2 linked regions of the Homo sapiens genome follow. The protein of the gene in region 1 purifies or fractionates together with the protein of each later gene. This does not show direct contact. Each region holds a gene or a part of one and is shown on either strand. Other genes may lie near its edges.

Region 1 (4,229 bases):
TCTCCTCCTCAAAGCAGCCTCCGCCATCAGCCTTGGGGCAAGGCCCTGCTCAGGCTGGGGAGGTGGGTAGTGGGGTGCTCCAGAGGACAACCCCAGCTCCTGGTCACTGCCTTGACCTTCCTTCCACCTGACATGCCTTGCCCTCCTCAAGGCCTGCCAGATCTCTCCATCCTTCAAGGCTTGGCCCTAATGCCCCCTCCTCCAAGGAGATGGCCCTGACTTCACCCTGGTAGATGTGGTGCTCCCTTGCCGAAGGGTCTCAGCTGCTGCCCCACCCTGGTCAGGCCCCCACATCCCCTGAGGGCAGAGATCTGCATGGTTTGTGTGGGGGTCCCAGGCCCAGTGGCTGTTCTCACGATGGGATAGAGCTTAACATCACAGGAAGGCAGGAAGAGAGACAGACACACAGGAACGGGGACATCGACGAGGTCAGAGATGCAGCAGGGCAGGTCTGTGCCCAGAAAGGAGACTCAGGAGTCCTGGTGCAGGGGGCACTTCTTCAAGGCATTCGGGGCTGGGCCGCATAGGGCCATGGGGGTGGGCGGGGACTCTACAGTCGGAGGCTCAAGAGTGGGAGGAGCGTGAGGGCCCCGCAGTGGAGGCTGTTCAGAGCGGGCGCCCCGTCTACATTGCACAGCTCAGTATTGCAGCAGGACACGGGCAGGGTCTGGCCGATGCCATCCACATCCGAGGGCTTACACTTGCTGGCACAGGACTTGGTCACCGTGGAGTCCCCCTGGAAGGGGTACACTGTGGGGTGTGGGAAGAGTCAGCCGTCAGGGCTGGTCACTGCCTCCAAGCCCTGGTCCCTGCCAGTACCACCTCATGCAGGCCCCACTCTGGGGTCACCCACCCGGGTCTCCGTCCCTCCTGGCCCAGTGCCCTCCTCTTCCTCTCTCCTCCCACCGACGTTGTCCGGGTGTCTACCATGTGCCAGGCACCCGGCCTGATGGGGCAGTTCCCGCCCCGAGGTGACTGTTGAAACCAAAGCCTGTAAGTGTGCCCAGCTTCTCCAGTCCCCCCAAAACGAGGTTGCAGATATGTTCCCACCGAAGGACATGAGGGAGAGAGGAAGGAAGGGGAGGGCAGAGGGAGGCCTAGCTCGGGCAGAAAGCCATTTCTGGAGATGGGTGAGGTGGTGGCTGTGCACTGGGGCCAAGCTGGCTGGTGGTGACTGGGCTGGAGGTGGCTCTGACCGGGAACCCAGCCCTGCCCGCCTTCCGTGCTCACTGCCCTATCTCCTGGGAGTAGAGTGTGACTGGGCTGGAGGTGGCTCTGACCGGGAACCCGGCCCTGCCCGCCTTCTGTGCCCACTGACCTATCTCCCGGGAGTAGAGTGTGGTCTTGCACATGGTTTCGTTGGTGGTGCAGGTGGCGATGGTGACACAGTCCGACACTCCTGTGGGCTCCGGACAGACGTAGCAGCGCAGGGCCGGCGCTGGGGAGAAGGGACAAGGGCGGTCAGGCAGGCTCCACCCCTCCCAAGCCCAGAGACAGTCTGTCCTGGAAGCCCAGGTCTGAAGAGGACAGTGACACTGGCCAGGGTAGAGATGCCTACCAGCCAAAACTCAGGAGCAATGCCAGGAGCCTGCAGCTGGGGACAGGCCGGGCTCAGCCTCGGAACCTTGCATCCCAGAGGCAGAGTCGGCTGCTGGGGGTGGGGATCCAGCCTGCAAGGCCTGGGAGGAGCCAAGCCAAGCCCCTTTGGAAGTGTTTGGGAGACTCAGGGGGACCAAGGCCCTGGCATCTTCATAGCAAGAGGCACCTCGGGCAGGAAGCCTTGGGTGGGGGCGTGGCTGGGGGCAGGTTACCCCCTCAGTTTCCCCATCAGGGAAGTGCTGCTGTGGAGGTCAAGGGATCAGGCCAGGAGGCCCATGGAATGCAGGGTGTGCCAGGCTGCATCCGGGCTGTGTCTGGGTGCCCACTCCTCTCCCACAGGGACTTGCAGACCGGCAGGGACGGGGACCGGAGAGGCTCCAATTCCCTCCTGCTCCGGTGACCCCGGCCCCAACCGCAGCAGCCCAGGTGGGTCTGGCTGGTTCCAGCTGGCCAGGGCAGCCAGCTGCACAGCTAGGCCCGACTCCTCTGTCCCCACTGTGGGGATGCAGCGGGGCCTCTGCCCCTCTCTGGTGCACCTGTTTCTGGGAAATGGGCAAAGCCATCTGCCAGGGGCCTCTGGGCCAAGCTGCTTCTGGTTGAGTCCAGGACATTGCCCCTGATGGTTGTTTCAGGCTCCACATCAGGGAGTCACCCCACCCCATGTGTCTGGTTTCCCCACTCCTCTCCATCTCTACTGCCACCCCAGCCTCAGAGCCTCCCTGGGGTTGCCTTCCTTCCCCCGCTCAAGGCCCTTCTGGGTGCCCATAGCCCCCCATAAAGTGTGACACCCAGGCTGGTGCTCAGGGGTGTGGCTGGCTGGGCCCCCGCCCACCTCGAAGGCCACCCTCTGCTCACCCTCATTAGGCGTCCCCCTCACCGCCAGCCCCTCTCTCCGTTTCCACCCTCCCCTCCTTATGGCGGGGGGGCCACACCCCCGGCCCCACAGCTCTGGCTTCTCCTGCCTCTGAGGCCCCTTCCTGGGGCGCCCTCCCGGGAACAGTGTGAATGTCAGTGGGTGGCATCTCCCTCCGTCCCAGCTCCCCTGTGGGTCCCACACCTCACCCAGCTCTCCGCAGGCAGCCAGCACCAGCGCCAGGAGCGCCAGCCGCGTCCCCCGCATGGTCCCGGCCCACTCCTCTGTGCTCTCACCCCAGGCTTGCCTGGCGGGGACAGCAGACACCAAGTGAGGTGGCGACAGACTGGTCTGCTGAGCGGATTAGTGGGGTAGAGTTTCCCCAGGGTGGAGGTGTGAAGACCCCGCCCCTCCAGGGGCTCCCCAGCCTTCCAGGCTGCTCCTCCCACTCCCAGCCTGGCCCTCTAGGCCCACCCCACCCAACTGGGACCCTCCCTGTCCCTTCCTCATTCCTCCAGTATCAGGCCGGTCCCCTCCCTGCCCTTTCCTGACCCCTCCAGCTCCCCGCCTCCGCCACCATGGCCTGGGGCCGCCCCTTCTTCCCTTTGTGGGGACCCTCCTTGACTCCTACACACCCTGTGCTCGGCTCTTCTCCCCACCCCCCTCATCCAGGAGAGCCCCCACTGGCTCACCCCAGGCAGCCCAGGGACCCCCCAGACTGCCTGGAAGGGGGCAGGGGAGTGTTACGGGCCACTCTCTGCTGCTGGCTCCTCAGGGATCCCTCCTGCCTCAGGTCATCTGTGTTCCAAGGCAGATCTGTGTGCTGGATCTTCCAAGATTCTGGGCTGGAATCTTTCCAGGAGGACCTTGGTCCCACCTCCGAGCTCCTTTGAGTGGTCAGGCTGGGTGTTGGGGGCCTGGGAGTGAACTGCCACCCGGACAGCCAGCTACAGGGTGTGCTCAGAGGCTTAAGGAGACAAATGCCAAAAACTACTGGGTCAGCAGAGAAGGTCCTGGATAGAGAGTGGGGTGGGGAGGAGCTGGGGTCTCTTGGGGGTGCTAATCCCATGCCCCCAGCCACCTGCCAGCTGGGTACCTTCATCTCTAACCTTCTGATAAAGCTGCCCTCAGGCAGGGCTTACCACCTCCTTGCAGGTAAGGAAATTGAGGGAAAGTTCCTTACCCGGGGCTCAGACAGGGGACAGTGATTTTGGGTTGGGATGCCTCAGACCATCTCCTGCTCAGCTCCCAGCTCCCCCCAAGGACATCCCCCCAGACTGCCTGCTCCAGCCTCCCCAGGTTGTGTCTGGTCTGTGATCCTGCCACCCCCTGCTCCCAGTCCTGCAGCTGCCAGTGTGTAGGGTGTGGGGGTTGGGGGAGGGATGTGTGACAAGCAGCCTGTGTCTTCCTGGGCCCTGGCGGTCAAGGCCATGATCTCAGCTAAGCCCAGACTCACACTGGAGCTCTTCAGCCTGAGCACCCAAATCCCACCTCATCCTGGTCTTTGCTCCTGCTGTTCCCACTGCCAGGAATGCCCTTCCCTCTTCTGTCCCAGTGTTTGAAATTCTGTCTTTGGTCGACCGCACTCTCCTGCCCGCACCCCCTCCCTGCCATGGCCCTTTTGGTGTCCCCACACTTTCCTGCTGCATCAGCTGTTTGGGATCTGGTCTTCGCCCCAGTGGCTGGGAGAGCCTGTGTCTCTCTGAGACTAGGTGGGGGTGGAGTGTGCAGGGGTGGTGAGTGGGGCACCAAGGATTCCCTAGCGCCCCACTTGTGT
Region 2 (4,138 bases), on another chromosome or scaffold:
TTAGTGGTTATAGGCATCAACCCTAGGGCCACGTGCCCTGGGTCAAATCCTGGTCCAACATATACTAGCCCTGTAACCTTGGGCAAGTTTCTTAACCTCTTCCAGCATCAGTTTCCTTGTTACAGAACAGAGATGATAGAGTTGTTGTGAGAATCAAATGAGTTAACACTTGTAAGTGCTCAGAACAATACCAGCATATAGTATCTGACGGAGACTCCTGAGCCTTCCCTGAAATTTCTACTTCATTAAAAGTGGACACTTGCTCACCCTGGGTAACATCTACTTGGGTCTCATGAACTCTAAGAGAATAAAGTGGGTGAGAAAACTGGAGGAAAAAAAATGTTTGGGGAAGCAAGGCTGCTTTAGAATCAGCTACACTGAGAGGCCTCTAAACCTTTCAGAGTGCCCAGCTTCTCTACTCATCCTTTACTTCATAACCATGGGGTACTCTAAATACTAAAGTTTGTTCTCCAAGACATAATTTTGGTGACTGGTGGGGGAGGATGTTAGGGGACAAAAGCAACTGATTACGGGAATGGGTTTTTTATTTTATTTTGTTTTGAGATGGAGTCTTGCTCTGTCGCCCAGGCTGGAGTGCAGTGGTGCGATCTCGGCTCACTGCAACCTCTGCCTCCCGAGTTCAAGCGATTCTCCTGACTCAGTCTCCCGAGTAGCTAGGACTATAGACGCATGCCACCACACTCGGCTAATTTTTGTAGTTTTAGTAGAGACGGGGTTTCGCCGTGTTGGTCAGGCTGGTCTCGAACTCCTGACCTCAGGTGATCCACCTGCCTCAGCCTCCAAAGTGCTGGGATTACAGGCGTGAGCCACCGTTCCCGGCCCAGGAATGGGTTTCTGAAGTTGGTATTTGCTTTCCTGTCCAACTCTGTTGGAAGGGAGGAAGTTGGAGAAATGAATGGCCCTTCCATTCTTTTGCAATCTGAGTTCAGTTCTCTTACTTCAAAGCAAATGCAGAACCCTTTGGGCAAACCTCACCTTTCCCTTCTTCTTCTTCTTTACTGGCACATCCCTTTACTCCCACAAAGTGTCCAGGGTGAGATTTACACAATGTAGGGGATTCCTAATTACACGTAGCAGCCAAGGTCAGAACCGCCAAAAGTACTAAGGTGGATGGTGAAGGGAAGCATCCTTTACTCCCATTTCTAACCTTGGCTACAGCTATTTCTCACCCTTAGCAACACCCAATCTTTCCTCTTTATAAAAGCCTTCAGACCACTGCGCATATCTTTATCACAAGTAAGCCCTCCCTTCTCTTGATCTTAGGACCACGTGAGGCTAGGGTTGATCTGACAGGTTATGCGAACACACACTTGGGAGGGCAACATTCAAATATATATCCCCTGTCAGTAGCACAGTAAGCTCAAAATATTTTTGTTGAGTAAACAGCATATGTACTCTGTGAAGGCATGCAGGTGGTATCCAACAGTTCCCATTTACTGTATTTAATATGGTCATAATAACTTCAGGGTCTTAGAAATATGACAATCGTATTCAGATTGAGGGGAAAAAAGGCCAATTTCATAAGCCCGGGACGACCAGTGGATGCAGGAAAAGCACAACGGACACTGCCTTGACCACTTTCTAGCTGTGCGATTCTTATGCCAACGAGCCTTTACAGGCTTCCTGCCTCGTCTGTAAAACGGGGTAAAAACAACTACCTCATGCACTGTTTCAATAATTCACTTTAAAAACAACAAAGTGCTATGCAAATGTTCTTGATATTCTTAGCCATCTAACATCTATGCACGCTCTACATTTATATTTCCTTCGTTAACTGTGGAGCCGTTCCTAAAGGGAAGCTTTTAAAGCGATAATGAAGATGCTCAGAAGAGTTCAATACAAGGTTACATGTGAAAGGAATGTCAGCAGCCTAAGAAAAATCAACCTAGCATCAGGTTTCATTCCAGGGGTGTTGAGAACCTGGAAAAAAATAATCTTTGGTGGGACACTCCTAACCTATCACCGCTGGGTTCCCACGGGCCAGGGTCGCACCCACGGCGAGCACCCCTTCATTTTACCTCTCCCCTCGTCTTTGCTCCCAGCCCACGCCCTCCCCAGCCTCCCACCTCAGGACCGCTCCGCCTGCCGGCCGCGGCGCCCAGCACCCGGCATTCCCATAAACCCCTTCGCCCGGAGCTTCAGAAAACGAAAGACAAAGCCACCCGCCCAACCCGGCGGCCGGGGCGCGGGTCCGCGGGGCGCCAGAGCCGGGCATGCGCAGAGGCCGCGGCGGGCTGCCGGCCTGGAAGAGCGAGGTTGGGGCGAGAAGCCGCCGGGACCCATAACTGGGTCGGCGGTCCGAGCCCCGCCTGCCAGCGCCCGCGGCCTCAAGGGCCGGGTAGGAGCGGCAGGGCGCCGGCGAAAGGCGGGGCGGGGGCGGCGCGGGCGGCGGGGGCGCCGCGTACCTGGTAGCGGCCAGTGAGCAGCTGGCTCCGCGACGGCGTGCACAGCGGCTGCGTGTAGTAGTTGTCCAGGAGCACCCCGCCGGCCGCCAGCGCGTCCAGGTGCGGCGTGCGGATGCGGGAGCCGTGGAAGCCGACGTCGTTCCAGCCTAGGTCGTCTGCCAGCAAGAAGACCAGGTGGGGCGGCCGGCTGGCCCCGGCGCCCGAGCCCGGCGGCGCCAACAACAGCAGCAGCAGCAGCGGGAGGACGACGGGGAGGAGCAGCCGCCGAGGTCCGGGGCCTCGGGGCAAGCTCGCCGCGCCGCGCGGACCCATCCTTGTCCGCCCGCGGTCCCAGCGCCTGTGGCGCCACCAGCCCCTTGTACCGCTGATAGAATGAGGAACTGGGCTGCCGGGGCCTGCTCCGCCCCGGCGCGGGACGGCACCCCCAGCGGGCCGTGGGCTTGCGAGGCCGGGCGCTCGGCCCCCGCCGCCTCCGACCCGGGCCCCCGGCTGCTGTGGCGGAGGAGGAGCCAGAGACGAACCCGCGGGCGCCCGCTGCCCGGCTTCTTGGAAACTCAGCTGACGCTTGGAGGGCACCAAGGCCCGTTATCTTCCCCGGCAATTAAATTTGCACTGTGGTTTCCTAAAAAAAAAAGATGTGTTCTTTAATAACGCTTCACAATTTACAAAGCATCTTCACAGCCCGCGTCTCCTGTAAAGCCTGCAACAACTCTGACAGTTAGACATTATAATTAGTGCCAATTTTTCATAAGAAAAAAGCTTATAAATGGTTAAACCTCTGACTCAGATCCTGAACCATGATGTCTAGCTAGCAAGTCATTTCTAGCACAAGAGCCCAGCCTGTGGCAGGTGGGAGGACGGTGAAAAGGCAGAGGTCTAAATAGCCTTTCACATTCATTTATGCGTAGTGTACACCCATGAAGCCGCTTCCTCCCCACTAGCAAACAGGAGGCCAAACACACAGTCTGATTGCACGGTGCCCTTTGGAAGGTGCGGTTACTTTCAAGTTGCCCTGGGAGGATTTGGAGTGTTGCGTGGTCATTGAATAAATAGCTCATTCGCTTGTCCGGATATGACCCCACTCAGAGCTGGCTCCCCCACTAAGCAGTGACACTAAGAAGCACACAGTATCTAGTTAGCCTGAAATATCTGAGTGGAAGGAAAAAATCCTTTAGTCACGTGCTTATTGAATTAGGAAGTTAGCCGTATGACCAGTAGATTCCCGTTGCCATCCAGACTTTCTGTCTACTCTGTCTGGAGATATTATAGTTGTTAACAGGTGTAGGGGAAAATTTTTGCATTGCCTAGAGACCATACCCTTCCAGGTTGAGTCTGATTCCGTGGAAGTTGTTTACAACTTTATAAGTTATAGATAAATAACAATGGAAAATAATTCTTATTTATATATACACAAATGAACTTTATCCAGCGGAGTAGCAATCCTTCCCCTCCACCACTACCAAGGAAAACAGTTTCACCTCCGCTTGCATATTTATTTTAGTATTCCTGATCTGTTCTTTGGATTGTCCTTTGAATTGGTTTTAACACCTTACCAATTTCCTTATTAATGAGTTAAATAAAATCATGTATTCACTTTTATATTTGTATGAGGGTCATGATTTTACCTTTTTTTCCCCAAGAATCCTTTAACACATGAAATGTTTGCCTCTTACATACACTTTTTTTCTTTGCATGAAGTAGATTAGTTTATG

What was found. Proteins that work in one complex are often made in the same cells at the same time.
Region 2: the proteins of LYPD2 (region 1) and ARSB purify together in Homo sapiens (affinity purification with mass spectrometry; one large-scale study listed by BioGRID and IntAct). This does not show direct contact.

What each region holds. Positions count from the first base shown.
Region 1 is NC_000008.11:142,749,733-142,753,961, forward strand, and holds LYPD2 (ly6/PLAUR domain-containing protein 2 precursor), read right to left. Parts: upstream 2,801-4,229; 5' UTR 2,720-2,800; coding exon 2,662-2,719; intron 1,439-2,661; coding exon 1,319-1,438; intron 751-1,318; coding exon 551-750; 3' UTR 418-550; downstream 1-417.
Region 2 is NC_000005.10:78,982,511-78,986,648, forward strand, and holds the start of ARSB (arylsulfatase B isoform 1 precursor), read right to left. Parts: upstream 2,801-4,138; 5' UTR 2,739-2,800; coding exon 2,427-2,738; intron 1-2,426. UniProt on the Homo sapiens protein: Removes sulfate groups from chondroitin-4-sulfate (C4S) and regulates its degradation. Involved in the regulation of cell adhesion, cell migration and invasion in colonic epithelium.